4 linked regions of the Homo sapiens genome follow. The protein of the gene in region 1 purifies or fractionates together with the protein of each later gene. This does not show direct contact. Each region holds a gene or a part of one and is shown in the gene's direction. Other genes may lie near its edges.

Region 1 (7,028 bases):
ACTCAAATGTCTCCAGCTCTCGATCTTCTCAAGCCCAAGTTGGAGAGTGAGGCACATACCATTCACTTTAACAACATTCCCTGGGCCTTATCTCTCAAGCATTTTCTTAAAAGAAGGCCAGGGCATTTAATTGGCATTTTCCAAAAGCCTCAGTTCCTTGTTAGAAAAAAATCTAGGTCTGTGATGCTTACTCTTCCCATTCAACTCAACCTTTTTTTTTTCCCATACCATTTGCCCAGAGCGCTGTATATAACCAGAAATGATATGCATACTTCAGGCCTGAGGTTCTTTGCCTGCAGGCTCTGGAAATCCATGAACACAATAAACTTTGCTAGTTGATCTTTAGCTTCAACAGAATACAGTATATAGGATAAATAATATACATAGATATTGTTGTAGTTAAAAAGATACATATTCATTTAAAAGTGTTACTGAAGTTTCAGTAACATTCTCCACTATCATATGGGGGTGGAGGCAAATGAGATATTTATGGACAGTATTTTAGAATGTGTTGGGAACTACTGCTGGGCTGCCTATGCATGGGCTGGCTGATGGCTATGTTAGATATCTCACTTAGATTCCATTTTAGAATTTTTTGAGAAGAAAATTACCATTAATTTTTAGAGACCTATCTTCTAAGCTGTGGAAGACAAAGGAATTCTCATTTTGAAAGTGAGGTACATGACAGAGTAATTATGAGGGAACTACACTAATGGCCTTAATTTGACTAAGATTAGATCCTTTCATGTAGAACTGAATTGAAACAAAAATGATTGAACCTTTTTTTTTTCTCCTGAGGCCTTTTTGAACACTAGATGAGATGTTTTATAATTTAGAGTTTCAAGGTTGTAACTAGAGAAGATCCTCAAATATTAAAAAAGGGTAAACTTGATATAAAATTGGTTTGTGAATTAACTTTTGTAGTTACCAGTAAAGATGTGCATTACTATGGGTTCTCTTTTACAGAAAGAGAATATTTTGGGGGAACCCTGTCCCACATTATGCGTTTTCCTGGTCTCTGATCAATGACCCCAAAGCTGCCTATTGGATTATTAGGATATTTTTATTTTGAGGAGATAAGTTATTTGTAAAACAAATAATTTGAAGATAATACATTTGGGGCTATTTCATTGATTTATAAGATAGAAATAAAAAAATTAAAAAATTAGGATGATAAAGTCTCACAAATGGGCAAGCAATATCCTTTGTCTAAAAGAGGCAAACTAGAAACTTCAGGGGGTAAAATCCCCCACAGGTGCACAGTGCATCTGAGCCACCGAAACTGAATGTCATCAGGTACATAGATCCCAGGTGCACCCTCAGTCCAGCCCCCTAAGAGGAGGAGCCCGAGGGACTCATATATGGTGCACTCAAGAGTAAAGAGGTACCCGAGTCTTCAGGTGGCAGATGTCCGCATCCTGACGACGATGTGTTTGCAGACTTAACACAAATACTGGAAAATCGGCTTCCTCCAAGCAAATCTGGTCTACTGATGTCATTGTTTCTCAGAACCTGGAAACTAGAATTTATGTTTAATTAAATGAAACCCAGGATCATTCACTAGTGTTAACCTAGAATAAATCCCCCTACCACTCTTTGGAAGTAGACTATCTTGTAACAGCCTCTCTCTCGTGCTCATGTCTTCATCTTTGTATTTTTTTTCTTTCTCTACTCAGTCTCCATCTATCTCTGCTTTATCCCTATCTCCATCTCTCTCACTTTTTCTCTTTCTCCCTTTTTCTCTCCTCTCCATTTTAAAACATAGATGTATAGCAACCCAAAGTGTGATCTATATTCTAAATTGCCTTTCGGCACTCCTGGAGGGTCCAGCCCTTTGCTGCTTTGGTATTGGGGAAGGCAGCTGCTTTAGAGTCCCTGCCACAGCCACGCACTCCCTGCTTACGGGTATTTGAATGATAGTAGTGGTCGTTTGGGGAGTTCCCCTAGAGACTTCTGGTGGGGACTTGTAGACTAAGTCTGAAAGCCAAAAACAAAACAAGGGATATTGGTGAACTAATTAGATTATGCAGCCAATTTGATCGTTTATAAAGACGATTTATCTTAGCTGCTAAGATAAACAAAAAATAGTTACACTGAACAAAAAAGTTGCGGGGCTGGGTGCGGTGGCTCATGCCTGTATTCCCAGCACTTTGGGAGGCTGAGGCAGGCAGATCACAAGGTCAGGAGATCGAGACCATCCCGGCCAACATGGTGAAACTTTGTCTCTACCAAAAATACAAAAATTAGCTAGGCGTGGTGGCATGTGCCTGTGGTCCCAGCTTTTCGGGAGGCTAAGGCAGGAGAATTTGCTTGAACCAGGGAGTTGGAGGTTGCAGTGAGCCAAGATTGTGCCACTGCACTCCAGCCTGGCGACAGAGTGAGACTCCGTCTCAAAAAAAAAAAAAAAAAGTTGCTTCAGGAAAAACTCTTTTGAGGATATATGCTGATTCTCTTATGGATTTTAGTGTCAACAAGGTCATCAGAAATTATGATCAAGACCTAGTAACAAGTTGAGAAATAAGTTTGTGTGTGACTTCTGAGTATTGCTAACAGATATATTTTTTAAAATTCCAATTCATTTTGTGAGCTTGCAATCTGCAATTGGTGTTGAAGAAGCCATTTTATGGAGCATTTTATCATCTGGATACCAGATGTTCTGGAGTATATGCTTTTTTTTTTTTTAAATGACCCATTTTGTGGAATTTTTTTTTTTTTTACAGTCTAGGGATAACTCATTTTCATAGTCTGCAGAAAAACTCATGTTAGGTGCATAGTGATTTCTCTCTATTCAAACTATTAATGCTTTGTATCGTATAGTTTTATATATTCTCATTAAATCAATTCATATTTACTGTTAGAATGAACCCATATTTACTGATAGCCTACTGTGAGCAAAGCACAGTACTACAAATTGTGGAGAGTTATGAATGCTGATTTCAAAAAAGGTTATAAACATTTCTTTTGATGATGTGATAAGACAGCATGTAAATTTGCAATAGAAAAGTTAAGGTACTGCATGCACAATGCTATTTAGGACAAAGTCCACCCACTATAAAAAGCAAGGAGTCTCTAGCTGGGGAATCATTTGTTTAGTTGGCTTTTGCAGGACCGACTGTAGGATCAGTGTCCTCCCACTATTTAAATTCCCCTTTCCTTGGAAGCTTCCTGCCGCAGTTGTTTTGAGTCTCTTGCCTACGTGTCATGTCGCATTAGTGAGCACAGGCCACATGGGACTTGGCTAGGATAGAAAATCCTGTATTTCTTAGGAGGAAAAAAAAAATAAAAGCCCTCACATTCATTTCCAGTTATTCATTTTTCATTTTAAGGTCCATCCCAGATCTAAACTGTCTAGATCTGAACTGTTAGATCTGAAATGTTGGTTTTTGGTTAGATGTTAATTGAAGGACAAATTGTCAGTTATTTTGATGTTAGTTTGTCGTTTGACTTTTTATAAAAATAATTTAAGGCAATTTACAATGATGTATATGATACTTGAAAAAAAAAAAAAAAAGAAACAGCCTGGGCATGGTGGTTCACACCTGTAATGCCAGCTCTTTGGGAGGCCGAGGCGGATGGATCACTTGAGCCCAGGAGTTTGAGACCAGCCCCGGCAATATGGCAAAACTCCATCTCTACAAAAAACCAAAAAAACAAAACAAAAAAACCCACAAAAGTTAGTCAGGCATGGTGGCATGTGTCTGTTATTCCAGCTACTCAGGATGTTGAGGCAGGAGAATTGCTTGAACCGAGGAGGCGGAGGTTGCAGTGAGCTGAGATTGCACCATTGCACTTCAGCCTGGGTGACTGAGTGAAGCCCTGTTAAACAACAAAACAAAACAAAACAAAACAAACAAACAAACAAAAAACCAAGGAACATAGGAAAGTGAAGCCAAGATAAAATAGGGATGGGAAAAGGCAAATGAATCAGCAATGAACTCACCTATAACTTCTCACATCGTGAAGTCTATAATATGTTCTTTAAAAAAATACTTCTAGTTCCTGAAGTGATGCTACTTTCTGCACCTGTTGCTTTCTTCTGTCAGTCACTGTGTTGCCTTATAAGGCTCAAGGTGGCCAGCAGAGATGGGGAAAGAGATTCTCTTTTATATTTGCCAGCATTTGCAGTGCGTCTCAACCTGCCTTGGGTGCAGAGGGAAAGCTGCTTGATATGTTATTATGGTTCAGGGTTGCTTATTAATTCTTACAGTGAGCGGAGGTCTGAAATAACCTGAACCACCCCCTAGCTATGGGAGCTTTCTACGTTATCCTTAGCAGGTGAGCATCTGTATCTTTTATTAGTGTTCATTACATGTAAAGCATTTGCTGGACTTGGACACATGTTATGCACTTGGGACAGAAAGAGCTACCATTTGCAGTTCTTGTCCTTGAAGAGCTTAGAGATAGAGACCTGTAGGTTGCTGGTTTACTTAATTTTTTAAATATGCCTTTGTAGCCTCCTAGAAATATTAAAAGTGTACGTTACTATTACCGAACTGCATCTCTGTCTCCTGACTTGTAGACATGTCCATAATATATTGTTAAAGGAGAAAAGCAAGGGGAGAGTAATATAAAAAGTAGGATTCTTTTCCTACAAAAACATATGCCCCTCTGCCAAATATATGTGTTTGTATGCTACTGTAGGTTTGCATAAGCAAGGAGAAGATATGTCGAAAGATCTGCATCAAACTATTAACACTGGTTAATATTAACAATTGGTTGAGATTGATTAGTAAGGGGAAGTTTAAGGGAGAGGCAAGAGGATTAGCTTCTCCTTTAAACAGGACAAATGCTATTAATTACAATAACAATACAAAGCAATTATTAATTGCAATAATATTGCTATGAATTCATTAAGTGTGTATTCCAATTTTAATTTGAAAGGCACTACTTAAAATTTCAGAATCACAGTTAACAAATGAAAGCCATTTCTTTAGATCTAAATTTTTTGTTTTTTTGTTTTGATCAGCACATCATGCAGCGAATTCAGAGGCTTCAGGCTGACTGGGTCTTGGAAATAGACACCTTCTTGAGTCAGACACCCTATGGGTACCGGTCTTTCTCAAATATCATCAGCACCCTCAATCCCACTGCTAAACGACATTTGGTCCTCGCCTGCCACTATGACTCCAAGTATTTTTCCCACTGGAACAACAGAGTGTTTGTAGGAGCCACTGATTCAGCCGTGCCATGTGCAATGATGTTGGAACTTGCTCGTGCCTTAGACAAGAAACTCCTTTCCTTAAAGGTATCTGTTTTCTGCTTATTGATTCCTAGGATAAAGTACATTAACAGTAACTCAGAGTGAATTCTAGAATCCTTGGAGGAATGAGAAGGCCATTTAGAAATGGAGACTTTTGGTACATTTTTATTATGAACATTAATTGTAAGATTGCATGATTGGGAATATCAACCATGGGCAATAAACCTAAGATACGTGACAATGCATTCATTAATTGGCACCTGATTTATCAGCCTTGAATGCACATTAAATTAAATGCAACATTTCTTTGTGAAAAATGAAGGAGGAAGTTTGTTTCAGGTATAGTATGAGAATTGTGTTTTATAATGAACTATGTTTATTTCTTCTTCTTTCTATGGCCATGAAACATCACAACCTTCTGATCTGAGAGATGGTGGCTCTTGGGTTGGAGGAGGGAGTTGCAGCAAAGTGGTTCTGAAGTGGAGAGTGGGTAATTCAGACCTATCAAGATGAAAAGCATGAAGCAGAAATGCATTATTGTTATTATCTGTGAATCTCAGCTCCATTTTATGTAGCATAGCAGAGCTTTTGTTATGCTCTCAGCTCAAAATACTTCTGGGACTCTCAGATGTTATTTCAGTCTTGGTGTTCTTAAGGGTATATTGGAAAAAAGTGCTAAACTAGATGAAGATATTTTGTTCTGATATCACTCATAACCAAGTAAACACAACAAAGCAAAAACAAAAAACTTTGTTCTCAGGCAACAAATGCTTTGTTCCCCGCTCAGAGCTTTATGAAGGGTCCAGCCTTTGATACAGTGGGGGTAAAGAAGTAAAAAGTTTATCTTGTAATGGAAGTAGTAGAGATATTTGGTTCTATTTTTGCTGGATATGCTGAAATTGAAGAAAGCAAGACTTGTTTATACCCTCTCAGTCTCCTTTTCACTTCTTTTTTTTGGTTTGTTTTGTTTTCTGAGCCTTCTACAATCCCTTTGTCCCATGCTTTGCCCTGCTTTTAACTAGTTTCCTTCCCCAGCAATTGGATGAAGGAGTTCAAAAGCTGATGCAAAAGTCTAATTTTTCATATTTGCACTTCTAGTATAAGGACACAAAATGAAGTATGACTTGAAGACATTGTTCTGTGTAATGGATGTATTTTCTCTGAGTGAACTCCTTTGCTTTTTCCCATATAGCTCATATCTGCTTTTGGTGACCAGAAATATTAATAGAAAGGTCTGAATGAGTTATTGGATTGGGGTCATCATTAAAAAAATTTGAATCAACATATATATTCTCATAGTAATCCTTTCTGTTAGAGATAAATGGTGAGGTGGGGGATTTTTTTTAAGAGGCTGTTTTTGAATGCAGACTTTGAGAGTATCAGATTTATTCTTCCAGTTATATGTTTTAACTAAATTGGTATTGAGAAGTTAAGTTCTTCAGCTGTCATGGATTGGGTAGACGGTGGTGGAAAGTGACCTGAAAGAGTGCTTGATAAGTAGACTGGATTATTCGCAACTCTTCATAGCTCCACTTCTCTCCAGTAATAGGACTGTCATTACACATCCACATCCTTTGCCTGGTAACTTTGCTGTGCCCTCCCACTGTAGCCAGTTGTACTTCCTCATCCCTTCACTCTGGACTTCATTATTTGACTTGCCTTAGCCAATGGGATGTTAGTAGAGGTGACACAAACAGGGGCTGGAAGTGTGCTTGTGCCATTGGGCTTGCTCTTCCGTGTCTTTGCCATAACCATGAGAATGGCATGCCCTGGCTAGCCTGCCAGTCCCAGCAGAAGGATGAGACACCTGGAGCAGAACCAACCTTGC
Region 2 (7,028 bases), on another chromosome or scaffold:
TTTGCAAAGTTCTCTTCTGGAGCTGGGAATACAGCACTGAAAGCTTCAGACAGTTCCTACCTTTGTGGAGACTATGTTCTAGTTGGGGGAGACAAACGTGTAAACCAATAAATGAGACCCCTTCAAGTGTGATAATAGCCTTATTTTCTTCCTAGCACTTATTTCTACCATTGTCTGAGAGGTATTTCAGAGGATCGTTTTAAACAGCCCCAGGACTAGTACTAGGACTAGGACTTAGCTCTTTCTAGTTGACTGGAAGCGTGACATTCGAGGTTTGGTGTGGGACCTCATCCCCTGAACTTTGGTTTTCTTTGCAGCTATAGAGGAAATCAAAGAGAAAATGAAGACTGTAAAACACAAAATCTTGGTATTGTCTGGGAAAGGCGGTGTTGGGAAAAGCACATTCAGCGCCCACCTTGCCCATGGCCTAGCAGAGGATGAAAACACACAGGTGAGACCTCAGGAACCACTGGGAGATGCTCATTTTGTCTGAGGGTCGTGATGGCTACTAAATAACTGATTCCTAGGCCAGGCGCAGTGGTTCATGCCTGTAATCCCAGCACTTTGGGAGGCCAAGGCGGGCAGATCACTTGAGGCCAGGAGTTTGAGATCAGCCTGGCCAACATGGCAAAACCTTGTCTCTACTAAAAATACAAAATATTAGCTGGGCGTGGTAGCGCAGGCTTGTAATCCCAGCTTTTCGCGAGGATGAGCCATGAGAATCGCTTGAGCCCAGGAGGCAGAGGTTGCAGTGAGTCAAGATTGTACCAGTGTACTCCAGCCTGGGTGGCAGAATGAGACTGTCCAAGAAGAAAAAAAAATGATTCCTTATACTAAGTTGAATTGGCCTCTTTGGAATCTCAATCCGGCAGAGAGCAAAGAAATGCCCAGTAGTCAAATGAAGCATTTCACTGGATTCCCTAGCCAAGAAAATGGCTAGCAGATGTACATCTGTCCTTGCATGTGGATAGTTTATTACATTACGTTCACGCTTCTTTTTCCTCTTTATTAACCCCTTTTAGCTTTTCTCTAAGCCAGGGACCTGCAAACTATAGCCAGTGGGCCAAATCCAGCCCATCTCCTGCCTTATGGCCTTTGAACTAAGAATGTTCACATTTTTGAAATGTTTTTTGTTTGTTTGAGACAGGATCTCACTCTGTCACCCAGGCTGAAGTGCATTGCTATGATCAGGACTCATTGCAACCTCTACTTCCTGGGCTCATCAAGCTATCCTCCCACCTCAGCCTCTCAAGTACCTGGGACTACAGGTGCTTGCCACCATGCCCGGCTAATTTTTGGGTTTTTTGTAGAGATGAGGTTTTGCCATGTTGCCCAGGCTAGTCTTGAACTTCTGAACTCAAGGCGTCCCCCTGCCTCGGCCTCCCAAAGTGCTGAGATTATAGGCATGAGCCACCGTGCCTGGCCTAAAATTGCAATTTTTAAATTAGTACCTAAGTACCTACATATGATCCTTGATTTTGCCCACAAAGCCTAATAATATATTTGCTGTTGGCCCTTGTGGAAAATTTTTGCTGGCCCTTACACGAGTTTATTCATTTCCACCCATGCATACAGACGAGCATGAAAACTCAGATTACCCACTGCTGCCCTCTGGATCTCAACTTTAATAAAAGGGGTTGGTGGGTCGCTAAGAGCACACACTCTGGAGTCAGACAGCCCAAACTCAGGTCCCAGCTCCATCTACACCACTGCTGTGACCTTGGGCAAGTTACCAGGCTTACTCTGCCTCCGTTTTCTCATCTATAAAATGGGACTCCAAGGACTGAGTGAGATGGCACAGTAAAGCACTTAGCACGGGGCCCGACGAATAGTCAATGCTCAGTAAAGGTCTGTGATGGCCACCATTTTTATTACTTTATTTCACTCTCTGGATATGAAGGGATGATGATTACATCTGCCTTAGAGATGAGTTTGTAGCCTACCCAAGGTATAGTACTGGGCAGATTCAAAATACACTTGTTGGGCAGGGCATGGTGGCTTACACTGTAATCACAGCACTTTGGGAGGCTGAGGCAGGCGGATCACTTGAGGTCAGGAGTTTGAGACCAGCCTGGCCAACATGGTGAAACCCTGTCTCCACTAAAAAATACAAAAATTAGCTGGGCATGGTGGTACGTGCCTGTAGTCTTAGCTACTCGGGAGGCCGAGGCATGAGAATCGTTTGAACCCAGGAGGCGGAGGTCGCGGTGGGCCAAGATTGCCCTACTGCACTCCAGCCTGGGTGACAGACAAGACTCCATTTAAAAAAAAAAAAGGATATAGATAGATACACAGACACATACACACACACACACACACACACACACACACACACACACACACACGTTGATTCGTCATTCTGTGAGTCAGCGATCTCTTGCCATTTGAGGGTCAAATCTGTACTGGCCTAGTGGGCTGGCCAAGAAATCTGCTTTCTCAGATTGTCTGTATCGTTTAGAAGAATCTTTGCTTTTCGAAGCTGTCAGGAATATTCCTAAACAGCTCACTGGAGATGGGCTTTCATCTCACCACTTGCAAGTAACCACTTGTGAGTAGACAACTGTTTACATCCTTCACTTTCATGTAATTACGTTCTGAAGTCTTTGCTGCATGCCTGTCTAGACTTTGCAGTATACAGAAGGAAAGCACACCATTCAGTGTGGAAATATGGCTAGATCAGCTGTATTTTTTTATGCAGTGGTGGTTTAAAAAAAAAAGAAGTCAGCATTTAGGAAAGTGTGTTTTCCCCAGGCAGACCTACTCATGACAGTGACATCACTATCTGCAAAGTGTCAACACATGGAAAATGCTGAATATGTCTTGATTAAAGTCAAGCAGCACAGATTTCTCCCTGCCCTAAATCCAGCAGGGTGGTGGGACATGCCCTGACCTTTTTCTGCCTGCCATCTGGTGGAAGCTTGGCTCTAACTCTGTGCAAGACCATTCCATGTTAGCGCTTGAGGCAGGCAGGCGCCTGTCATCTCATTGGCACAAAGGGCCTTGGATCAAGAGAGAGCAGAATTAGAAAACACCCCTGACGAGTCACAGGCTGCCCAGGGAGTGTGTAAGTTGTGGTGAAGGCAGAAGGAGCCTCTGTAGCATAAGCCTGAGCCATGAGACAGCCAAGAGTCATACACTGTCTTCCACTGCAAAAGTCACCGACTCCCAGCCTGGGCTTCAAAGTGAGACCCCTGTCTCTACAAAACATAAAACATAAAAAAAGTTAGCCAGGTGTGGTGGTAAGCACCTGTAGTCCCAGCTACTCAGGAGACTGAGGTAGGAGGATCACTTGAGCCTGGGAAGTCAAGGCTGCAGTGAGCCGTGATTATGCCACTGCACTCCAGCCTGGGCAACAGAGTGAGACTCTACCTCAAAAACAATGAATAAATAACAAGTCACCAACTTCCATAAATTAAACTTTTTTTGTTTGTTTTTTTGAGACGGAGTCTCATTCTTTTGCCCAGGCTGGAGTGCAGTGGTGTGATCTCAGCTCACTGCAACCTCCACCTCCCGGGCTCAAGCAGTTCTGCCTCAGCCTCTGGAGTACCTGGGATTACAGGCGTGTGCCACCACACCCAGCTAATTTTTGTATTTTTAGTAGAGACAGGGTTTCACTATGTTTGCCAGGCTAGTCTCGAACTCCTGACCTCAGGTGATCCGCCTGCCTCAACCTCCCAAAGTTCTGAAATTATAGGCGTAAGCCACCACACCCAGCCACCATAAATTAAACATTTATGATCTTTGTGATCTGAAAGGCAAACTGTCATAACAAGGTCAGCACTAGGTGTTTCAGGACTGAGTGTGCGAGGCCCTCCTCTGGGTCCTGGGACTGCAGAGCTGAGAGGGGCCTTGATGACCCCGGAGCAGTTGTCTCACAGATCAGAAGCCCAGACAGCCAAGGCTTCGAAAGCAGAAGCAACTTGTGCAAGGACTAAAAGTTAGGACTAAATCCCTCTTCCCCTACCCTCCTCATCAGGGGCAGTTTGGGGTGCTGAGTAAAGGAGACGCTTTGGGTCCCGACAGCCTTGCAGCATCTCCACCTTCTGCAGCAAACGCGGCCTCTTCCCATCAGCTGCAAACACAGGCCCAGAGGTCCTGCTGGGAGGAACGCAGGCGCATTGCTCTCAGCTTTGCTTTTCTGGCCTAACCTAAGCAAAATTAAATGGACAGATTTTGGGGTAGTAATAAGATCAACAGGAAGTCTGAACAGACAGGACCCAGGGCCGTCCTGGCCATCTGGGTAGCAGGAGCTTGTCAACAGCCTCTCGGGCCTGCCACGGGAGTGAGAGAGTGCGCTGGATCTGCTTCTCATATCCTTACATCATTTCGCTCAAGATTCACTCCCCAAGGGAGTGAAATTCCTCTAAAGGGAATTGATTAAATTGTTCCCTAAAGGAAGGGCATGGAGACAGAGTCACTAGAAACCTGAGAGTATCGAGGAAAGTCTCTATCACAGTCATAGTGATAGTGTCATTTCCCCGTGGATCATTGACACATCAGTCCCAAGTATCAAGGTCCGGAGAGAGCAAGTCAGGTTTTCCGATGATGTCGCTCTGCTGTTCTCCCCGGATGGCTCCATAGAGGGCACCTGAGGCCAGTGCTGGTCTGTGGATGGCGTTTTCCCGTGCACAAGTTTGAGACAGCGCTGGGTGCTGAGGAAGTAGGAGGCTGGGTTTGTTGAGAGGATTGAAGAGGGTGGCAAGAAACTAATTCAGGGCAAGTTAAAAAGTGACGCGGAGGTGCAGCACTTTGGATCCGAGTCATTGCAGCTTTCAAGATGAATACTAGCCCTGTTCTCAGAAGGTTCCTGAAGGCCGTCTCAGACCTCCTGTATCAGAGGGGAAGGCTTGGGGTGGAATGGGGTCGCCTGAAGCTGCACCTGAGTCACAACTAAAGAGCTTTTCCAGGTTTCCATCTTACTTTAAGTTTCTGTTCTGTAAGTTTAGCCTAAACCATCATTCACCTTCAGGATCAAAGGAAAACAGGGCTTGGTCAGGGTTCAGCTAGAGGCTCCACTCTGGTCCTCCACAGCAGGCCCGTGGTGTACTGGAAAGAGCCCCAGTTGGGGCCGAAAGACCTCAGTTTATGTCCCAGCTCTGTTCCCTGCTTATTGAACTGGTCCCCTCTGAACCTCAGTTTCCTCCTCTGTAAACCAGAGATAATGATACTTACCTTCTAGGCACATGGCCGCCTCAGCCTCCCAAAGTGTTGGGATTACAGGCGTGAGCCACTGCACCCAGCCCCCAATATTTTTTAATACATTCATATTCTGCTTAAATAGTCTAGATTTGGCTTGTATCTGAGACTCCTGAACAAGATAGGATGAGTTTGAGAAAAATTTAAGATGCAGAGACCAAGGCTTGGTGAGGGGTGAGCAAAAGAGAGCTGTTTAGGGTGGCTCCAACACTGCCGTCTCTTGGCTGTTCCATCCATTCTGTCACACAAGCCAAACAGGCGCTAGGTCCCTTTCCCCGTCTCCTCCAACCAGGGCTCAGTAAACAAGGTCTGAGCCCGAGCCTCCAAGTGACCTGACAGCCAGGTCTGTAAGATCACCCTTGAGGAGCTCAGCCAGGCTGAGGGGTAGGGGAATGGGGGCATCAGTGTTTATGAACCTTGAGATCAGCGTTAGGACTCTCCCTCAGGAGAATCTGATGGCTCCAAGTTTAACCCAGTTTCTGTCTTCTCCCCTGTCCTTTTCCTCTAACCCCGCTCCCCTCCTAGTTGTGTGTGTCTGGAGTGTGTGCATTCAGTTATATAACCGCTTTGGTCTCTTCTTGTCCCCAGATTGCTCTTCTAGACATCGATATATGTGGGCCATCGATTCCCAAGATAATGGGATTGGAAGGAGAGCAGGTAATAGCCGGTTACAGAACTCAGGAAATTATTCTCTTAAGGCAAACTCTGTAGCACTGAACTGTCAAACCTCAACAAAGAGGCATGCGGAGCCCATAAATGTTTTTTTGTTGTTGTTTTGTTTTGTTGTTTTTGAGACAAGGTCTCACTCTTGTCGCCCGGGCTGGAGTGCAGTGGTGCAACCTCAGCTCACTGCAACCTCCACCTCCTGGGTTCAAGCGATTCTTGTGCTCAGCCTCCTGAGTAGCTGGGACTACAGTGGTGTGCCATCATGCCCAACTAATTTTTGTATTTTTGGTAGAGACCAGGTTTCACTACGTTGGCCAAGCTGGGCTCCACCTCCTGACCTCTAGTGATCACCTGCCTCAGCCTCCCAAAGTGCTAGGATTACAGGCGTGAGCCACCGCACCTGGCCTGTAAATGTTTATGTGGACATGAGGAGCTCATACATGCTCAGTAGTCCATCTGTCTACTTTTAACAACAACTGTGAGTCTTGGCGGGGGAGGGGCGGGATTGTATATGAAGTCTGTCTACACCATTGGAGAAGCATTGGTTTCGATGCCTCCTCAGAGGGGAAGGGAAACAGCCAGTGAAATGCAGAAGTAAGACACGGAAATTTAGCTCTGACTGGGAACATTAGACCAGGGCTTGCTATGGGTCTGTACCCTGGAAGCAAGGGAATATTTCTGCCCTTGTGGTCTCCCCTGGGGAACTGAGACTGCAGGGCGGGTGAGCGATGTGGGCTGGGGGCAGGGCTGTAGCAGTCTATGTAGTTGCTGGCCTCTTCTTGCTAGCAAGAAGCTCTCCAAGAGAGGATTCCCCCAAGGGCAGTGCATGGAAGCTGGGGCTGGGGGTGCTGGGATGTCCCGAGAGTCTCAAGATTGGTTCTTTCTTTAATTAGTGCCAGGAATGCATTAATCCTGTTTTGGGGATGCAGTGGTGAACAAGGTCCATGAAGACCCCTGTCTGGGTGGGAGAAGGCAGATGCTAGATAATGTGAAACCAACCCAGAGTGAGGGGATGGACAGTAGGGCAGAGTCAGAGGGGCTGAGGGGTGGTCAAAGGTGCCCTCACTGAGGGATAGCATTTGAGCAGAGGATGACAGGAGGGGAGAGCTGGGGGAAGGGCATTCTGGGCTAAGGGAGCAACTGCATGGGCCGCTGACACAAGGTGT
Region 3 (7,028 bases), on another chromosome or scaffold:
CGTCCAGCTAATTTTTGTATTTTTGGTAGAGACAGGGTTTCACCATGTTGGCCAGGCTGGTCTTGAACTCCTGACCTCAGGTGATCCACCCCCTCGGCCTCCCAATGTGCTGGGATTACAGGCGTGAGCCACTGTGCCCGGCCATAGCTTCTTAAAAGGATACGTTAAGGACCTTAAAAGGATATGGCCTCTTAAAAGGATATGTTTACACACCCTTGTAGCAAATAAGAAGCCATGTGAGGTTTTGAGCAAGAGAAAGATGGTTATTAGGAAAGCTAATCTGGCTCTGGTAGGAAGGATATACAGAGGAGACACCGAATCCAGGGCATCAGTGAGGAAGCTGTTGCTGTCCTCCAGGTTTAGAGCAGTGGCGGTGGGACTGGAATAGATGTGCCCAAGAGACATTCAGTGGAAACGAACCAAGATTTTCCAACCCCATGTCAAAAAGTGGGAAATAGAGAAGTCAAAAATGACTCTCAAGTAGTTTGTATGACCATTGTCAGAGAGGAGAATGATAGAATACTTGTCAGCAATTTGAAATGTCTTCTGCCAGTTGCCACATGTTACCCTGCAATGAGAAAAGCCACTTTCCTGAGAATGGATACTACCCAGTGGCCTCCTCATCTGGACACCACGAAGCTTCTCACTGGTGTTGTAAGTGGAAACCAGAGTAGCTGCCTATCTCCTTGATTATATTTTTTCTTAAAAATGTATAACTATCAGAACACAGAACAAACAGCTCCTAACCGCTTTGGTGTAGTGATCACACAATTTAGAATAAGACTTAGAAGACTTTCCTTTTTTTTTTTTTTCCAGAGACAGGGCCTCCTTCTGTTGCCCAGGCTGCAGTGCAGTGACATGATCATAGCTCACTGTAACCTCGAAGTCCTGAACTCAAGCAATCCTCCCACCTCAGCCTCCCAAGTGGCTAAAACTATAGGCATGCACCACCACACCAGTTCATTTTTTAAATTTTTTGTAGAGTTGGGGCTGTATTTCCCAGGCTGTTTTGAACTCCTGGCCTCAAGTGGTCCTCCCCACTGGGCCTACCAAAGTGCTAGGATTATAGGTGTGAGCCACCACACCCAGCCTCATTCATCTTTTATGGTTTGCTGTCTCTGTTCAATCAAAACCCAGCCTCCTCCCATCTCTGTGCTGACAGACCTGGAAGGAGAGGAGTATGGGGTATACAGCAGAGTAGAAAATGTCTCCAGGTGATTCTAGAGCAATCCATTGTCTCCTCCCAGCCCAAACACATGTGTACTGAGCACGGCGCACATCACTTATTAACTTACTCTGCACCTCCCTAGTAACAAGTCCATTGGTGAGACTTACACAGAGCCAAGGCAGGTGACTTGGCTTTGTGCCAGGATACCAAAATTTAAAGGGTGCAAGAAAGTATTAATACTGGTTTTAAAAGATTATGTGACTGTAAATTTTGTTAGATTTACACATTGACAGCCCAGCATTCCTTCAACTGTCTAGAAACAACTGAGCTTAGCACCTAGTTAACAAGAATAATTAGTTAAAACGGGAAGCTAGCAGATGGTGTACATTGTTAGTAACACCCCTCTGTGTGCCAAATCCGGAGCACAAAGTTGACCGAGGGCCCGTGTACTGCAACTTGCCCAAGGCATCAAAATTGCCAGTTCCGGGCAAACGGAAAGTCTGGTTTCAGGGTGGCTTTGTACTGAAAACCCTTGTTGGCAGATTCTGCTTGGCCATTCATTACTCTAGCACAGGCCTCACTATCTACTTATAACTTATTAAGGAGGTGAGATGTTGCCTTTCTTCGCCTTCTCAATTTAAATTTCAGTTTCTGCCTTGAATCTTTCATGCCTCCAGGTCAAAAGAGAGAGACAGAGACAGGGAAAATGACATCATAACCAAATATGGAATTGCTTTAAATTCAGGCTGGTATCTTCTCCCATCACGGCTCTCCTGGGCAACCAGTTTCCTGATGACCCCAACTCACTTTCAGAGGGCTCTTATGAATTAGCTCTGTGCTACAAAGTGGGAGACTGACCTCAGTTCTTCCACCACTAACTAGCTTTGTGCCCTGAAAACATCACTTCACCCCTCCCAAACACAGAATAAGCAGGCCTCCTGTTCTTACCTAGCCCCAGTGTGCCACTACTGAACTATAAGATCTTGAGAAAATTCTCTGAACCTATTTCATCATCTCCACCTTAAGGACACTGGAATAGATGATCTCAAAGGCCCCTCCAGGGTAACTTTCTACAGCTCTATTTAAGCCAGTTTTTCCATTCAGGTAAGTGTGGACAGATTGACTTTGAGATAATGGTAACTTATTCAAGGAGAACTGGACAGTAAGCACTTGGAGAAATGTGGGTGGAACTCAGTGTGAAAGGAAGAGGAGGGGTCTGGAAATAGATTTTGGGGTGAGACTTGAAATCATGAGAATGAAGGAGCTTCCCAAAGGGGAAGTGTAAAGAAAAGAGCGTCAGAGACAGCCTTGGAAGAATAGGAGGTGGGAAGAAAACACTGCAAAAGAAATAGGGCCAACTTCCTGGTGGGTCGCGCCTGTAACACTTTAGGATACTGAGGCAGGTGGATGGCTTGAGCCCAGGAGTTCCAGACCAGCCTGGGCAACATGGCAAGACCCTGTCTCTATAAAAAATACAAAAATTGCCCGGGTGTGGTGGCACGCACTTGTAGTCCCAACTACTTGGGGGGCTGAGCCAAGAGGATGGCTTGAACCCAGTAGGTCAAGGCTGCAGTGAGCTGAGAACATGCCACTGTGCTCCAGTCTGGATGACAGAGCAAGACTCCGTCTAAAAAAGAAAGAAGCCAACCTTAAATGGTTAGCGGCAGATCTTAGGGTAGTTTTCAAAAAAGATGTTTTAAGAAATAGAAGTTATTTTGACGATAGTTCCTAAGTAGGAAGATTTTGTTGTCATTGTTGTTGTTGTTTTTAATATAAAGATAAGGTCTCGCTGCATGGCCCAGGCTTCTCTCAAACTCCTCAGCTCAAGTGAGCCTCCCACCTTGGCCTCCCAAAGTGCCATGATTACAGGCATGAGCCACAGCTCCTTGCCCAGAAGGAAGTTTTTATCAACATGGGTAAATGCACCTCCCTTACTTACTGCAGCCCTGGTCCAGAACTTACCCCTCTCTCTAGGCTGTGAAGCTTCATGGAGGTATCGATATCCTAGTCTCCAATGCTGCTGTCAACCCTTTCTTTGGAAGCATAATGGATGTCACTGAGGAGGTGTGGGACAAGGTGAGAGGGGATTAAAGCAGGGGGGCCGGGGGGGGCGCCTTGGAACACATTCAGCACAAACTCCATCTGCTTTTAGAATGCATTTCTCAAGGGCAGTGTAAATGTGAGGACTCTTTGCCACGTGCCACACACCTGGAGCACACCTTGCAAAGGGCGGGTGGGGGTGGCTCTATCCCTGCCCTTCTCATTCGTTTCTGCTACTCCTAGTTCTCTCTGCTTCTATCTGCTCTTCACTAGCCACAGTCTGCTCCTCTCCCCAGGCTTTTTCCCTGGCATGCTCTTCTGCCTTGTTGATTTCCAACAGAGACGTAGGCAGCTAATATGCCAACAACTACAACACTTAATTTACACACCCACCTGTCCCCTTTTCAGCTGACAAAAAGTAATTATTTTTTACGAGTTGGGAAATATTAAATGCTGCTCCTTATTTAAAATACTAATTCTGGTGAAATGACCAGTTGCCACTTTATAACATACATCCTTTAAAAAAATAAAATAAAAACCTATATTATTTTCTTCTTAACTGCAATGTCAAGAAAATCTGAGATCCAGATGTCTAAATTCAAGTGGTAGAATATTGGGTTTTATGTGAAAGTGTATAATTACATTATATTCGTAATATATTTCACACACACTCTTTAATTACAAAGCTTTAATTAAAATATTTGTCTTTGTTTATTAAGGTTAATATTCCCACATGATTGGGAAATGCTAATTTTTATGATCTCCCATGGTTCTGCGTTTTACACTGATGTTGTATTAGTCTGTTTTGCATTGCTATAAAGGAATATCTGAGCTGGGCAATTTATAAAGAAAAGAAGTTTGTTTTGGCTTACGATACTGCAGACTGTACAAGAAGCATGGTGCCAGTATCTGCTTCTGATGAGGCCTCAGGAAGCTTACAATCATGGCAGAAGGAAAAAGGGAGCAAGTGTGTCACATGGCAAGACAGGAAGCAAGAGAGAGATACCAGTCTCTTTTAAACAACTAGTTCTGGCATGAAGTAATAGAGTGAGAACTCACTCACTGCCACAGGGAGGGCACCAAGCCATTCATAAGGGATCCACCCTCATGACCCAAACACCTCACACCAGGCCCCACCTGGAACACTGGTGATCACATTTCAACATGGGACTTAGAGGGGACAAACTTACCAACTATATCAGATGTCATCAAAATTTCTCAACACTAAAGTATCAGGTTGCCAAAATACTATGATTTATTTACCAGTGTTTCATACACATAAAGACCAAACTGCCAAAATGTTCTTCAGTGAGCTAGTTTTTGATTCTAGTTTGAGCTAGTTTGAGAGAAGGCTGGGCAACACAGCGAGACCTTTTCTCTATATTAAAAACAACAACAACAACAATGACAACAAAACCTTCCTTCTTAGGAACTATCATCAAAATAACTTCTCTTTCTTAAACCGTCTTTTCTTCAAAACTACCCAGAGATTTGCTGCTAACCATTTAAGTTTGGCTTCTTTCTTTCTTTTTTTAGACAGACTCTTGCTCTGTCTTTTTTCCTTTTTTTTTTTTTTTCCCTCGCTGTGTCATTGAGGCTAGAGGGCTGTGGTGTGATCTCAGCTCACTGCAACCTCAGCCTCCCAGGTTCAAGCGATTCTTGTGCCTCAGCCTCCCAAGTACCTGGGACTACAGGCATGTGCCATCATGCCTGGCTAATTTTTTGTATTGAGATGCGGTTTCACTGTGTTGCTCAGGCTGGTCTCAAATTCCTGGCCTCAACTGATCCCCACACCTCAGCCCCCCAAAATATTGGGATTGCAGGCATGAGCCACCACACACAGCCAGATTCTGATAGTCTTTAAAATAGAGGAGCATCATTCATGAACAGTCTGAATAGAGACCATATGAAAGTCAGTTTTAAACTAAGTACAGGCACGCCTCAGAGATATTGTGGGTCTGGTTCCAGGCCACCACACAATAAAGTGAATATTATAATAAAGTGAGTCACATGAATTTTTTGGTTTCCCAGTGCATATAAAAGTTAGGTTTACATTATAATGATCATCTAATGGAAGTCTATTAACTGAGCAATAGCATTATGTTTTAAAATATATATACGTATCTTAATTTTAAAATACTTTATTGCTAAAAAAATGCTGACAATCATCTGAGCCTTTACAACTTGTAATCTTTTTGCTGGTGGAGGATCTTGCCTCAACATTGATGGTGGCTGACTTAGGGTGGTGTTGCTGAAGGCTGGGGTGGCTGTGGCAGTTTTTTCAAATAAGACAGCAGTGAAGTTTGCCACATCAGTTGACTCTTCCTTTCACAAGAGATTTCTCTGTAGCATGCAATCCTGTTTGATAGCATTTACCCACAGTAGAACTTCTTTCAAAATTGGAGTCAATCCTATCAAACTCTACCACTGCTTACTCTACTAAGTACCTATAATATTCTGAATCCCGTGTTGTGATTTCAACAATATTCATGGCATCTTCACCAGAAATAGATTCCATCCCAAGAAACCACTTTCTTTGCTTATCCGTAAGAACCAGCTCCTCAGCCATCTACATTTTATCGTGAGATTGTAGCAATTCAGTCCCATCTTCCAGCTCCGCTTCTAGTTCTCTTGCTATTTCCACCACATCTGCAGTTCCTTCCTCTGATGCAGTCTTGAACCCTTCCACGTCATCCATGAGGGTTGGAATCAACTTCTTCCAGACTCCTGTTAATGTAGATATTTTGACCTCCTCCCATGAATCACAAATATTCTTAATGGCATCTAAAATGGTGCATCCTTTACAGAAGGTTTTCAGTTAACTTTGCCGAGATCCATCAGAGGAATCACTATCCATGGCAGCTATAGCCTTACAAAATGTATTTCTTAAATAATAAGTCTTGGAAGTCAGAATTACCCCCGATCCATGGGCTGCAGAATGGATGTTGTGTTAGCAGGCATGAAAACAACATTAATCTCCTTGTACATCTCCATCAGAGCTTTTGAGTGACCAGGTGCATTGTCAATGAGCAGTAACAGTTTGAAAGGAATCTTTTTCTGAGCAGTAGCTATCAACGGTGAGCTTAAAATATTCAGTAAACCATGCTATAAACAGATGTGCTGTTATTCAGGCTTTGTTGTTCCATTTGCAGAGCACAGGCAGAGTAGATTTAGCGTAAATCTGAGGGCCCTAGAATTTTCAGAATGGTAAATGAGCATTGGCTTCAACTTAAAGTCACTGGCTGCATTAGCCCCTAACAAGAGAATAAGCCTGTCCTTTGAAGTTTTGAAGCCAGGCATTGACTTCTCCTCTCTAGCTATTAAAGCCCTACATGGCATCTTCTTCCACTAGAAGGTTGTTTCATCTACATTGAAAATCTGTTGTTTGCTGTAGCCACCTTCATCAATGATCTTAGCTAGATCTTCTGGATAACTGGCTGCAGCTTCTACATCAGCACTCGCTGCTTCATCTTGCACTTTTATGTTACAGAGGTGGCTTCTTAAACCTCATGAACCAACCACTGCTAGCTTCCAACTTTTCCGGAGCTTCTTCACCTCTCTCAGCCTTCAAAGAATTAAAAATTAGGGCCTTTTACTGATTAGGCTTTGGCTTAAGGGAATGTTGTGGCTAGTTTGATCTTCTGTCCAGAACATAAGAACTTTCTCTCCATATTAACAATAAACCTCTTTTGCTTTCTTATCATTTATATGTTCAGAGAAGTAGCACTTTTAATTTCCTTCAAGAATTTTTCCTTTGCATTCACAATTTGGCTAACTGGTGCACATGGTCTAACTTTCAGCCTGCCTCAGCTTTCAACAT
Region 4 (7,028 bases), on another chromosome or scaffold:
TCCTCAAGTTTTTATTATCAGCCTAGAGAATAATTTTTAAAAATAGAAAAGAGACATTCACATGTATACTTCTTTTGATGGGATGTACCTTGTGACACCTTTGCTGACCAGCTTATGGCAGAATTTGTCGTTTTCTTCTCAGTGCACAGAGAGAACAATTGTGGTTGGTATGGGTTTGGTCTTCCTCACTTAGCTGTGTGCTTATTGAGGGGTTAGGATGGCTCCTATTAATTCTGATATCTTCAGTTCAGCTCCTAGTATACACTAAGTGCTCAAAAAATTGGTCAGATGAACAGTATTGCCAAATTATATTATTTTGAATTAAGCTTAACTGGTGGACTGGCCTCTGATTAGCTCACTAACCTTGAATGAACCATCTAACCTCTTTGCGCTATAGTTCTGTCATTTACTAAATGAGGTACATTACGTGATAGCTCTAAGATACTTTGGCTAATCATCAAACATAGAAGAAAAAGAGATCAGTATTTGCTGCATTATTAGTGGTCAATTGCAATTTTCTGGTTCTAAATTTTATTATTTTTATTATTTTTTTTTTGAGGCACAGTCTTGCTCTATCACCCAGGCTAGAGTGCAGTGGTGCAATCTCAGCTCATTGCTGCCTCTGCCCCCTGGCCTCAAGCGATTCTCATGTCTCACCCTCCTGAGTAGCTGGGATTACAGATGTGCGCCACCATGCCCAGCCAATTTTCACATTTTTAGTAGAGACAGAGTTTCACCATGTTGGCCAGGCTGGTCTTGAACTGCTGACCTCAAGTGAACTGCCTGCCTTGGCCTTTTAAAGTGCTAGGATTACAGGTGTGAGCCACTGTGCCTGGCCTCTAAATTTTATCAAAAGAAATATCAAAAGAAAAATAAATTTTTACAAGCAAATTATTGGCAGTGTTATTTTATATGGCCTTATATTGCTAAACTGGTAAAGTATTAATGCTATGACTTGAGAACTTAATAAAATCAAGAAGTCACAAAGAAGCTTCTAACATGGCTGCTTTCTGAATCACAGAAACTCTACCATGGCTTTTTCTGGAGAAATATCTTGAGTTCTGTTGACATATGGAAGTCCTGTGAAGTTACAGTAGATAAGACAGTTGCCTTGGGATAGGGAAACATCATTGAATTGGAGGTTAAGAGAATTGAGCTTTAGTCTGTGTCCCATCACTCTCCATGTGATTTTAGCCATTCCCACAAACGCTGAATCCCGGGTTTTTCCTATAAATGCTATTTAACAGGTTACATTGAAGAGGCTCATTTGATAGACAATATGTTTTATTTATGGGTGAGTTAGGGTAGTTGCACTCTGGGCTGCAGAGTTGTTTCACTGAGAGACTCTATGCTTGAAACTCAATAACTCAATGTTGGGAAGAGAAGAACTTGGCTGGAAAAAAGTAACCTAATTCTTTTATTCTGCAAGCCTTTATTGAGAGGTTCTGTGTCAGGTTATGTCCAGTAGGTGGGTACAGACATCAAAACCAAAGCCAAAAAAACCTCCTGCGCTCAAGGAGTTTGCATATCTAGAAATCATTAATGTCAGTTGAATAGCAGTAGGGATATGGGAACATTTGGTCCTTGGTGGGTTTCTCAGTATGGAAACGTTAGATGATGGTTGTAACTTTGCATCCTTTGGCTTTTGTAATTACCTGGCAATGGAAATAAAGAGGTGTTGTTGTGGACTCTTATTTTCATCAATTATATTTCCATTGCCCTCTGAAGATTGGATTCTGGGCATTACTCTCCTTATATAGTGTACATCCTTTAGTAAGGACCCAGCCATCCGTATTCACTGTTATGGACTTGGGTGGCAATGTCACCCAACTGTACTCACACAAGTAGTCATAAAATATTCTTTAACACATGGCTCAGAGTAGGGGAGGGGACTACCACATGTCAAAGTTGGAGCCTCATGCCAAATCTTACCGTAGTTCCAAAACAGTTGGCCCACTTTCATTTTAACTACTCTATTAATTGATCTAAATCCTAGTTGACAATAATCAGGACATGAGCTGTCCTGTCAGTTCAGAAAATGATTCTATTTTAAGTATTCCACAGTGCACACAGCCATATGCTGAATTATAACACAACATAAAGCCTGAACATTTAAATGCCAACTTGTGGCTGCTTGTTCCTAATGAGTCATGTTCTTGTGGTACCATGCTCTCCAAATCTTTTTGTATCTTAATGGTTGTATCTGCCACTATTTCTTTGAACTAATGGGTCTGACATTTTGTGGTGCTTGGATTTAACTTCTCTAATTTACTCAGTTTACCAACGGTTTCAGAATATATGCAAATTATATCTCAAAATTTCTCCAAAAATACTAGATTTTATACAGTCATCTCATAAAGGCGTATATTATAATGTGCAAAAGGGATTAAAAACAGACATTTACTTGTTTAAATTTTATGCAGTAACGTTTTTTCTGTGTGACCTGCAAGAAATGAGCCAGCCACACAGTAAAAGAGCAGCTCAGGTCTCAGGATCTGGGCTTCCTTCTTGACACTATAAAATTACTTCACCCTGCAAAACTTTATGCTCTTTCTCACAGGTTGTGAGGTGTTAGAACTTAAATTACCTGGCATCTCAGCTGCATTCTGTGCCTTGAAATTGGCATTGTTCATAGTTAGAGAACTACTCCTGTTGTCTCCGGTTTTTCCTCAGTTTTCCTTTGAGGGAGGCTCATTTCTTCTTCTAGATCAGCACTCTCTCACAGAATTCACCTTGAGCTGGAATTTTCTTTAAAGTTCCCTGCCATAAATATAAACGTCAAATAGACCTGCAATCATTCTTGTACTCCTGAAGAAAAAAAAATAATGAGTCGAGAGATGAATTTTGTTTTCCATATTATGTGAACTGACGGATTAGTGAAAAGACCTCCACTCTGGCTTTCAACCAGAAGCTACACCCAGTACCCATGTCAACAAACCCCTCAACTTCATCTGCTGGTGGGTGTGTGAGAGAAATATGCTTCCTTTGGATGCTGCATCTGGTATTGGGTGATGATAAATGTTTGATAGAACTGGGCATCACACTGGAATGCTTTTTTTCTCAAGAGAGTAGAAATGAGGTTTTGGAAGCTGTGTTAATGGAGGCTCATTCATGCAGCTGCCTTCCAGGTAGAACTGTTCTGTTTTAGGAAAGCTCTCAGAGGGCAAAGCTTATTTCTTTTGGAATTGTACAATACAAAGCAACCCAAATTGAATTAATTCCTTTTCCTAATGATATAATTTTTCAGCAGCTCTACACCATTTTGGCTTGAGTCTCCAGCAGATGCATGGCTTGCCCAGGTATAGATGTGGTGCCACACTCAGTGCTACTTTATTTTTTTCATACTGCAGTGAGTTTATCATGGCTATCTAAACTTCCAAAAATAGGTTTTGATATGGGTACTCAGATACTTCTTAAGGTGCTTGATTTCCTTTGGAGCTTTGAAAAGAAATTGACTTTGGAAGGTAATGCTGTGGAGAGCAATAAAATTATTTGAGGATAGTCTTATTTTAAAGATTAAATTTTGTTTGTGTTTTTTCTAAAAGTTAAGTTTTGTTTAATCTAAAGTTTAAATTTTGTTAAATTGTACCTAAGTGATGATGATCTTTATTCTAAATTTTCTAAACACCAGAAATAATTAAATATGTCCATATAAGTAATTTAGAAAGTGAATTGTGTTCATATGTATTTATTTGAGATATATAGAATTATTTTAGTACACACATCACACACATACATATGTACACATATATATATTTCCTTTCTTATAACATACCATAGACTGAACTACTAAGTCTTGGAACAAGATTTCTTAAGGAAAAAGTAGTCAATTAAGAAGAATTTTCCTTCAAGGTTTTATCTCAAGTTATTCTTATTAGAACTTAAAGAATAATAATAAAAATAAATAAATAAATAAAATAAAAAAATAGGGAGTGTCTATAAAATCATTCATTTATAGACACTCCCTATTCCTTTCTTTCATATGTATAGAAATAAATTCCTTTTTTCATATGTACAGAAATTTTAATAAATATTAATGCCATGGCTAGAAACTATTTTAAAGTAAAATAATAAGTTTGTGTAAAATATAAACTCAAAAATGACATATTTATATTAATTATCCTATGTCTGCAGAGGAAGAAATACAAACCATTAAAAGTTGGAAATGTCATTAGGAGAAAGGCACAAGGGTGTCATAAATTTATAATTTTTGCTTATACATATGCCTTGTACTTAGCTAATGTGATGCCTTCATATTCTGGGTGAATTATATTAAAACACCAATAAAATTGTTGTATACCAAGAAAAAAAAAAAGAATATCAGGGACATAAAAATTATTTCAATAAATTTGCCCACAGAGATCTTTGATTCAAACCTAAGTGTAAATAGTCATCTCAGTTTTTTTAAAGATTGTTCTTAATTCCATTACTGGAGGAGAAGGTAGACCAATTCTTTCCTGAGAAGTTAATATTATTGGGACTTCATAAATGATCCATTAGAGGTAAGCACTGTGGTAAAATAATGTCCTTCTCTCTTTAGAAACCAACTGTGTGGAGCATTGTTAAGATATGCTTCACCTTGGTGTGTATATACTGTTCAAATGTGTTTTGCAGACTCAGTTTCTGAGAGAGTAGGTGACAGCACACTGCCCATCTCTTTCTAAGTTAAATCAAGACCTGTTGTGCAGCTCAAAAATTGGTTGGGAATGTGTCTATATTTTTTTTAAGTTAAGATTTCAGTTTTATAGTGTATATATATATATATATATATATATACATACACACACACACACTAAATACTACATATGCTATTTATACTATATATTATATATATACTATATATAGTATATAGTGGGTATATATGTATATATATGTGTATATATGTGTATATACTATATATGTACTATATATGGTATATAGTATATAGTGGGTATACATGTGTATATATATGTATATACTATATATGTAATAGTATATATGTAATGGTATATATAGTGTATATATTCTCTCTATATGTAGTACACACACACATATATATAATGTAGTGGGGTAAATACAACATTTCAACATCCTTAGAAAGGAAATACACAAGAATAAATTCACAAATGGAGGATGTAGGCACAAAATGCTAGGAGCTCAGAGGAGCATAATCTGGTGGGCAGAAGTTTCACAAAGGAGATGGGATCAAGTTCAAAGAGCTTGACTAGACAAAGTACATCTCCTGTAGAAAATGAAAATGAGCAAAGGCATTGAGACATGTAAATATATTACAGGATTCTAAGTTGGCCTCTTGGGTTGGACTGGAGGCTTAGTGTAAGCAAACAGTGGCAGGGAAGCCTGGATAAGTAAATGGGACTGGATTATGGAGGCTTTGCTGACTTATCACCAAGAAAAATATTTACTGTATTTATAGCATGTCGTTATAAACACATTTATCTTAAAATTCAAGTCATAAGTTTTAATGATGCTTTTCCTCATGTGTGTCCAAGGAATGTTGTTTTGGTGTATGGGGTTATTTCCCCAGGGGAAGAATGCTGAAGCTTTTAAGATTTTGGAAGAAGCTCATTTTCCTGGTTATGATGCATATAGATGCAGTTTTAGCAGCAAGCTTGCTGGGGCAGTGCCTATTGGTTTATTATGCATCCCTTTTAATTCTTGTTTTGTTTTTCCCCACAGGTGCTTGTGTCTATCAGGATTCCTTGTTGGCGGTAGGTCATTCTTTACATACTTGGTTTCTGTCATTTGAATGTAAAATGCTTGATTGAAGTTCCTGAGTGAGTGAGTTGACCCTATCATTGTAGAATATGTTTATTTTTCTTCAACGTTTGACAATTAGCCCTCATTCGGGCACAATGATGCTCAATTATTTAATACCTTTTCCAGAGTGAATTAGTTCTATTCAGATACTCAGGTATTGGAAGAGAAATTCAAACACTCAACACACGATTTACATTCTGTGGCTGTTCTTTGTGTTCTTTTAATCAGAGAGAAAATTAGATCCCATCCTTTTGTCAGATACAAACTGAAACACAATTTTTTAACTTCTGGTTGCATTTGCTTCCCACTTTGAACCCTTCTCCAAAAAAAGTATGATTATTAAATTAAGTAGAATAGGAAGGATTTCTGTTGTTACTTTGAATTATAAACTTAAGTTTTGGTGAACAGCAAAGAAATTAACATTTATTTCTGAACTCTTGCCATATAGGGTAAAATTGATTTTGAATTTAATGTCAGAATGACTTGGGGGAAAGGCTGATGTAAGTCTCATGCATTTCTTTTCATTACTAATGCACTATGGTGCATAACAGTGTGTTAAAGCCTTATTGAAAAGACTGTCTACACTCCATCAACTCTAATAAATGGTGTGACAAATCATTCTTCACCATGTTTTTATTTTGGTTTAATAAATGCTATAATAAAACTGAACTGAGATGGTTGGAAAGAATTTGCTCATTTACATCACAACCTGCTATTGACATGTGTGATATTGATAAGTCATCCTGGATTATCCTTGTGGTATTGAAATAGCTGAGGAATATCTGAAGTATCTTAGAGTCTAGATAACTGTAGATATTCACCATAATATCCTTGAATCTGCACTTTATATACTGTAGTTACTGCTGGAGAAGTTTATTTTTTAAATATTTTTCTATCAAAAATTAGGAAAAAGCCATTTTTATTGTATTTGTCATTCCATATCCTGCCCTGTTTATTCTTTAATATATTTTAGGAATCATTTGCTCTAAAATATATTATCACTTTTGGGGAGCTACAGTAGATATTTAGACAAGTCAGTTATCCGTGCTAATAAAAGAGAATTATTTATTGTGTAGAGTACTTCATAACTTTTCCATATATTTTCATAAGTATTCATATGTCTGATACTTATAATAGACCAATGAAATAGGCAGGCCATGTATCATTCCATACTCTTTCCCCTTTTAATGGAAAAGATGAGAGAGAGAGATGAAGAGATTTGCTAGAGGTAATTCACCATTAGTGGTGGACCAGAACAAGACATCCTGTCT

Evidence for each region.
Region 2: the proteins of QPCT (region 1) and NUBP1 purify together in Homo sapiens (affinity purification with mass spectrometry; 3 studies listed by BioGRID and IntAct, with this or other methods). This does not show direct contact.
Region 3: the proteins of QPCT (region 1) and DHRS4 purify together in Homo sapiens (affinity purification with mass spectrometry; 3 studies listed by BioGRID and IntAct, with this or other methods). This does not show direct contact.
Region 4: the proteins of QPCT (region 1) and FRAS1 purify together in Homo sapiens (affinity purification with mass spectrometry; 3 studies listed by BioGRID and IntAct, with this or other methods). This does not show direct contact.

Annotation. Positions count from the first base shown.
Region 1 is NC_000002.12:37,354,614-37,361,641, forward strand, and holds part of QPCT (glutaminyl-peptide cyclotransferase precursor), read left to right. Parts: intron 1-4,966; coding exon 4,967-5,245; intron 5,246-7,028. UniProt on the Homo sapiens protein: Responsible for the biosynthesis of pyroglutamyl peptides. Has a bias against acidic and tryptophan residues adjacent to the N-terminal glutaminyl residue and a lack of importance of chain length after the second residue.
Region 2 is NC_000016.10:10,746,826-10,753,853, forward strand, and holds part of NUBP1 (cytosolic Fe-S cluster assembly factor NUBP1), read left to right. Parts: intron 1-317; coding exon 318-451; intron 452-5,784; coding exon 5,785-5,853; intron 5,854-7,028. UniProt on the Homo sapiens protein: Component of the cytosolic iron-sulfur (Fe/S) protein assembly (CIA) machinery. Required for maturation of extramitochondrial Fe-S proteins.
Region 3 is NC_000014.9:23,956,760-23,963,787, forward strand, and holds part of DHRS4 (dehydrogenase/reductase SDR family member 4), read left to right. Parts: intron 1-3,142; coding exon 3,143-3,244; intron 3,245-7,028. UniProt on the Homo sapiens protein: NADPH-dependent oxidoreductase which catalyzes the reduction of a variety of compounds bearing carbonyl groups including ketosteroids, alpha-dicarbonyl compounds, aldehydes, aromatic ketones and quinones.
Region 4 is NC_000004.12:78,060,309-78,067,336, forward strand, and holds part of FRAS1 (extracellular matrix organizing protein FRAS1 isoform 1 precursor), read left to right. Parts: intron 1-5,676; coding exon 5,677-5,708; intron 5,709-7,028. UniProt on the Homo sapiens protein: Involved in extracellular matrix organization. Required for the regulation of epidermal-basement membrane adhesion responsible for proper organogenesis during embryonic development. Involved in brain organization and function.